Linked DNA regions of Homo sapiens: region 2 is linked to region 1. Evidence: fine-mapped expression QTL. A gene starts in region 1. The other region holds a variant in brackets. All regions are shown on one strand. Distances are between the middles of the regions.

Region 1 (2,905 bases):
GTGTGTGTGTGTGTGTGTGCATGTGCCTGAATGCACCTGGCTTCTGTACTAAGCCATACGCTTCCTGAGGGCAAGGCTTTGTCTCTGGGAATCTCTTGCAAGGAACAGGCCCACAATGAATGCTGCTGAAACAGGGAGAATGGATTGAGTCTTACTGGGAATCACCAGGGCAAGTAAATACACATATTAAAAAATAAGTATGCTGGTCCCTCAACCCCACATCCTTGGCTTTCCTGGGGACTGGAGTTTGGAACAAGGATTCAGCCTTTGACAAATGTCTAGGACTCTGTCTGCAAGGTGGGGCCGCTTGGCCAGTGGTGGAGCCACACTCCCCAGGGACCTTGTGGTCCTCTCCACTCCGGAGCCCCTCCCCGCCGAACCCCTCAACTCTGGCTGCCCCCTGCACTGAAGCGCTCAGGACCCTCCACCTCAGCAAAGCTGAGGATCCAGTCACACGGGAATGGGGTGTATGGGGAAACTGGAGCCCCCCACCCCCTTCAGGCTTCAGGTTCTGCCCTGATTATGCCTCCAATATGACTCCCAGGGAAGGCAGGGGTTGGGGGGGGGATGTGGAGACTAAGGAGGACGGGGAAGCGAGGTAGCAGAGAGGAGGGCAAAGGCAGCAGAAATAAAGGTGTGCGTGGCGGGAGGTGGCGGGGCTCGACCTCGGGCCGCTCTGGACGCCCGGCAGTGCCAGGCAGGGCCCGGGTCTGGGCGGTGGAGGACAACTTCTGCCAGCAGCCCGCCGCGAGTCCTGTCCGCCTCCCGCGCGCTGCGGTGCCCAGCCCCGCGCCAGCCCTCCCGGGGGAGCTGGAGCTTGGCCGCGCTGCTCCCCCCTGGGGCCGCTCCGGCGCCCACACCCCCCACGCCCACCGACCGGCCTCCTCACCTTCGGGACCTGGGAGTCACCGGCCGGCGGGGCCCTGGGTCCGGGCCGGGCTGGGTGGGGGCGGCGCTCTTCCCCCCACGCTAGCTGCGCCCGGGGATCTGCAGCGCCCGCCCCGGCTGCGGCGCCATCAGCTGCTGGGAGGCTGCGGGGCAGTCGGGCCGGGGCTCCGGGGGGCTCGGGGGCGCCGAAGGGGGGTCGGGGGCGGGCTCGAGGCGTAAACACCCAGCAACGTGACCGGAACTGGCGAACGAGCCGGAGGGGTGCGGGGGGCGGGAGAGAGAAAGGGGGAGGGGAGGGACCTGAGACGGGCGGGGAGGGGCCGTGGGCGGGGCGGGGGGAGGGGAGGCCGGCGGCGCGCGGTCGGGGGGAGGGGGAACCCCGGGAGCCCCGAGAGCCCCGGGAACCGGGCCTGAGGCCCCCAGCGGGCCGCTGGGCTCGCGGAGCTGGCTTTGGCTGGTAGCTGGAAGGGCAAACTGGGGAACCCGCCGGTGCCTTGGCGCGCAGGGGCGCGGCGAAGGATCAGCACCGCGGACAGCGCCCAGGCCGCCAGGCCGCGATCCGCTCCGCCCCTCCCGCCCTGGCGTAGGAAGGAGAGGCAGCGCCCGCAGCCGCGCAGGCAAGGCTTGGGGCGAAGCGCGATCTGACCAGTGGGCTGGGAATCCGTCCCGTGTCTAGGCAGCAGCAAACCTGCCCCAGACCTCTCACTAGCTGTGTGGCCTTGGGTGAGTCACATCACCTCTCTGGGCCGCAGTTGATAAGATGCCCTATTTCTAAAATTCTTTTATTATTATTATTATGCTTTAAGTTCTATGAGGGTCCCAAGAGCCAAGGGAAGATTCTTGATAAACTCCAAAGTTCAGGCCGGGCGCAGTGGCTCACGCCTGTGAGGCCAGCAGTTTGGGAGGCCGAGGCGGGCGGATCACCTGAAGTCAGGAGTTCGAGACCAGCCTGGCCAACATGGTGTATGTATCCCAATCTCTACTAAAACTACAAAAATTAGCCGGGAGTGGCGGGCGCCTCTAATCCCAGCTACTCGGAAGGCTGAGGCAGGAGAATCGCTTGAACCTGGGAGGCAGAGGTTGCAGTGGCCAAGATCGTGCCACCGCACTCCAGCCTGTGTGACAGAGCGAGACTCTATGTCAAAAACAAATAAACAAAAAAACTCCAAAGTTCAGAACACGTGCGAGGCATTGCTGTTGATCCGTTTTCACCAAACGTGGGAGGCTTCAGGAGTCCCACTGTGTGCCTCAAAAGTGTGGCTGCCCTAATATCTTCCTCCTGCCGGGGGCTTGGTCTCATCTGTAAATGAGGATAATGATGATCTATGTAGCTCATAAGATCTTCGGGTTGTTGTGAGGATTAAATGAATTCCTTCCTGTAAAGTGCTCAGAACAGTACTGCTGAGTGCTTGTTAGGCCTCTGTGCTCATGACAAGGGATGAGGTAGCATTGTGTGAGTGGCAGGTGGCTCAGAGATTGCTCTGGGTAAGTCATTCCTGTCCCTGCCTGGAGGACTGGGCTGAGTGGATTCAGGCTAATGGGTTGGTGCCTGGCTTTCCCCACTCCATGGCTAGCCAAATAATCCCTGGCCTTTCCTCCTGGACCAAATTTTCAGAGAAGCCCTGTACCTTCAGAGCTGGGAGACCCGGCACCTACTTGCCACAGAGGCCCTGGGGAGGCCTCAAGGGGCACCCTGCCTCTCTATGGGTCCCTTTCCTCCCTGTCCTCCCCACTTTCCAAAGGTTAACTGGACTCAGGTGTCAACAACTAAAAAGCTTTAGCTGCTCCTGGAAAATTCTAATCCTAAAGAGTTGCAGGGGCCAGGCTCAGTGGCTCACGGCTCTAATCCCAGCATTTTCGGAGGCTGAGGTGGGTGGATCATGAGGTTAGGAATTCAAGACCAGCCTGACCAAGATGATAAAACCCTGTCTTTACTAAAAATACAAAAATTAGTCGGGCGTGGTGGCAGGTGCCTGTAATCCCAGCTACTCAGGAGGCTGAAGCAGGAGAACCGCTT
Region 2 (2,905 bases), 410 kb before region 1:
AATTCTGCTCTCCCCAATGAAAAGAGAAATCTTGATTCTCCTGCAAAAGGAAGCAGTCTAGTGACAGAGACTTGAACAGTGTAAACAAAATAGAAAAGTACTTGTGTCTACACTTGAGGTGGATATGCTGGGATTATAGATATGGCTCAATTTTGGAGGTTAGTCACAGATAATGGGAAATACTTTTTTTTTTTTTTGGAGACGGAGTCTTGCTCTGTCGCCAGGCTGGAGTGCAGTGGTGCGATCTCAGCTCACTGCAACCTCCAGCTCCTGGGTTCAAGCGATTTCCCTGCCTCAGCCTCCCAAGTAGCTGGGACTACAGGCACATGCCACCACACCCAGCTAATTTTTCGTATTTTAGTAGAGATGGGGTTTCACCATGTTGGCCAGGATAGTCTCGATCTCCTGACCTCGCCTTGGCCTCCCAAGGTGCTGGGATTACAGGCATGAGCCACTGCGACCGCCAGGAAATATTTTTTAAGAGGATGATGACTTTTTCCACCAGTGCTTAGAAACTGGACTATACTGCTCCAAAAGTGATTCCTAAGAAAATGTGAGAAATGTCAGAATATGCCACAGCTACGTATCATTCCTGACAAAAGTTGACCTGCTCTGAACTCATGTTTCTCCTTTCCTCCTTCAGTGTTTGATTTCTTTTTTTTTTTTTGAGATGGAGTCTCGCTCTGTTGCCCAGGCTGGAGTGCCGTGGCGCCATCTCAGCTCACTGCAAGCTCCGCCTCCCGGGTTCACGCCTTTCTCCTGCCTCAGCCTTCTGAGTAGCTGGGACTACAGGCGCCTGCCACCACGCCCGGCTAATTTTTTGTATTTTTAGTAGAGACGGGGTTTCACCATGTTAGCCAGGATGGTCTCGATCTCCTGACCTCGTGATCCGCCCACCTTGGCCTCCCAAAGTGCTGGGATTATAGTCGTGAGCCACCACGCCTGGCCCAGTGTTTAATTTCTACAGAAACATCCTGTCCCTTCTGCAAGGAAAAACAACAGGAATATTGGTAGACCAGGCTGGCCTTTCACAAAGGACCACTGGTATAATTCTAGGGGTATCTGCAGATCCTTCAACCCAAAAATCCTCCCCATCAGCCTGCTTCAGATGCCTCCAGGTCTTTAGCTGTGACATTATCCTCTGTTGAATGCTAACATCCTTGGGAGGTAATCTAGGAAGTTTTTTTTGTTTGTTTGTTTGTTTTTTTGAGATAGAGTTTCACTCTTGTTGCCCAGGCTGGAGTGCGATCTCAGCTCACTGCAACCTCTGCCTCCGG[G/GTTCAAGTGA]TTCAAGTGATTCTTCTGCCTCAGCCTCTTGAGTAGCTGGGATTACTGGCACCCACCACCATGCTTGGCTAATTTTTGTATTTTTAGTAGAAATGGGGTTTCACCATTTTGGTCAGCCTGATCCTCCCAAAGTGCTGGGATTACAGGCGTGAGCCACCATGCCCAGCCGTCTAGGAAGCTTTTAACAGCTTAGAGTGCATTTGCATTAATTGATCTGATCCCCTTTTACCTGAGCACTAACCATTAGCAGTTTCCGGCAGGGAGGGGCCTCCAGGTCCTTCTTCCCGCCTCCCCAGGCTTTTGAGGTTCTACCACCCTCCAAACTATACAGTCTTGACTAAGGGTCTTGGGAACCTGGACAGCATCAGAACATTACATTCCTGTCTAAAGAATGGGGAAGACTAGCTCTACCCAAGGCTCACTTTATGTGTAACATTCTGCACTAGGTAATCTCTATAATCTCCAGTACTAGGACTGCCTGCTAGCAGGTTCTCCCAGGACATCAACAGAGTTTGGGTTAAATGTTGGGAACCACCAGAACCTCATACATGGGAGTGTAAAGTGGTATAACCAACTTTGGAGAACAATTTGGCAATATCTAATAAAGTGTGTGCATCAGACATTCCTTGCCTAGAAACATAAATCCCAAACATTTGTTCACCAGAAGACAGTCCTCAATGTTCACAGCAGCAGTATCCATAACAGCCCCAAACTGGAAACCACCCAAACGCCGGGTGTTTGTACGTTCACACCACGGAGAGTGAACAACCTACAACTGTACACAACGCGCACGGAGAATGAACAATCTACAGCTATACACAACATGAACAAATTTCAGAATGACACAGGTGAGCAAAAGAAACTAGTCACAAAACACTACACGCTGAGTGATTCCACTTATAAAAAGTATAAAAACCCAGGCCGGGTGTGGTGGCGGCTCACACCTGTAATCCCAGCACTTTGGGAGGCCAACGCGGGTGGATCACCGAGGTCAGGAGTTCAAGACCAGCCTGGCCAACATGGAGAAACCCCGTCTCTACTAAAAATACAAAAAAAAAAAAAAAAGCCAGGTGTGGTGGTGCATGCCTGTAATCCCGGCTACTGTGGAGGCTGAGGCAGGAGAATCTCTTGAACCCGGGAGTTGGAGGTTGCAGTGAGCTGAGAACGCGCCACTTCACTCCAGCCTGGGCAAAAGAGCGAAACTCCATTTCAGAAACAAACAAACAAAAAAAGTATAAAAACCCACAAAACTGTCGTGTTGGAATCAGGAGAGTGGGTACCCTTAGGGGGAATAGTGACTAGAAGGGAAGGTGATGAGGCGAGGGTGTTGGTCACATGTTCTGTTTCTTGCTCTAGTTGCTGATTTCACAGGAGTGTTCAGTTTGTGAAAATTCACCACGCTGTGTAATTGTGATATGTTCTTTTATATGTTTACTGCACATCAGTTAAAAAGATTTCTTTTTAAGTGCTTTCTTAAAGAAATGACTGAGCACAGTGGCTCACGCCTGTAATCCCAGCACTTTGGGAGGCCGGGCGGGTGGATCACCTGAGGTCAGGCGTTCAAGACCAGCCTGACCAATATGGTGAAACCCCATCGTTACTAAAAATACAAAAATTAGCAGGGCGTG

What was found.
Region 2: its variant is fine-mapped to the expression of CCDC92B in vagina (GTEx, PIP above 0.99).

The regions. Positions count from the first base shown.
Region 1 is chr17:2,748,522-2,751,426 of GRCh38, forward strand. CCDC92B (coiled-coil domain containing 92B) reads right to left here and starts at 1,131. Exons shown (of 4, transcript NM_001355573.2): 1 at 890-1,131. RefSeq lists a silencer at 1,321-1,510.
Region 2 is chr17:2,339,936-2,342,840 of GRCh38, forward strand. The region is part of intron 1 of SGSM2 (small G protein signaling modulator 2); the gene reads left to right. Among named protein-coding and RNA genes, the nearest start is that of SGSM2, 3.9 kb to the left of the region's middle. The variant G/GTTCAAGTGA (reference allele first, on the strand shown) is at 1,278.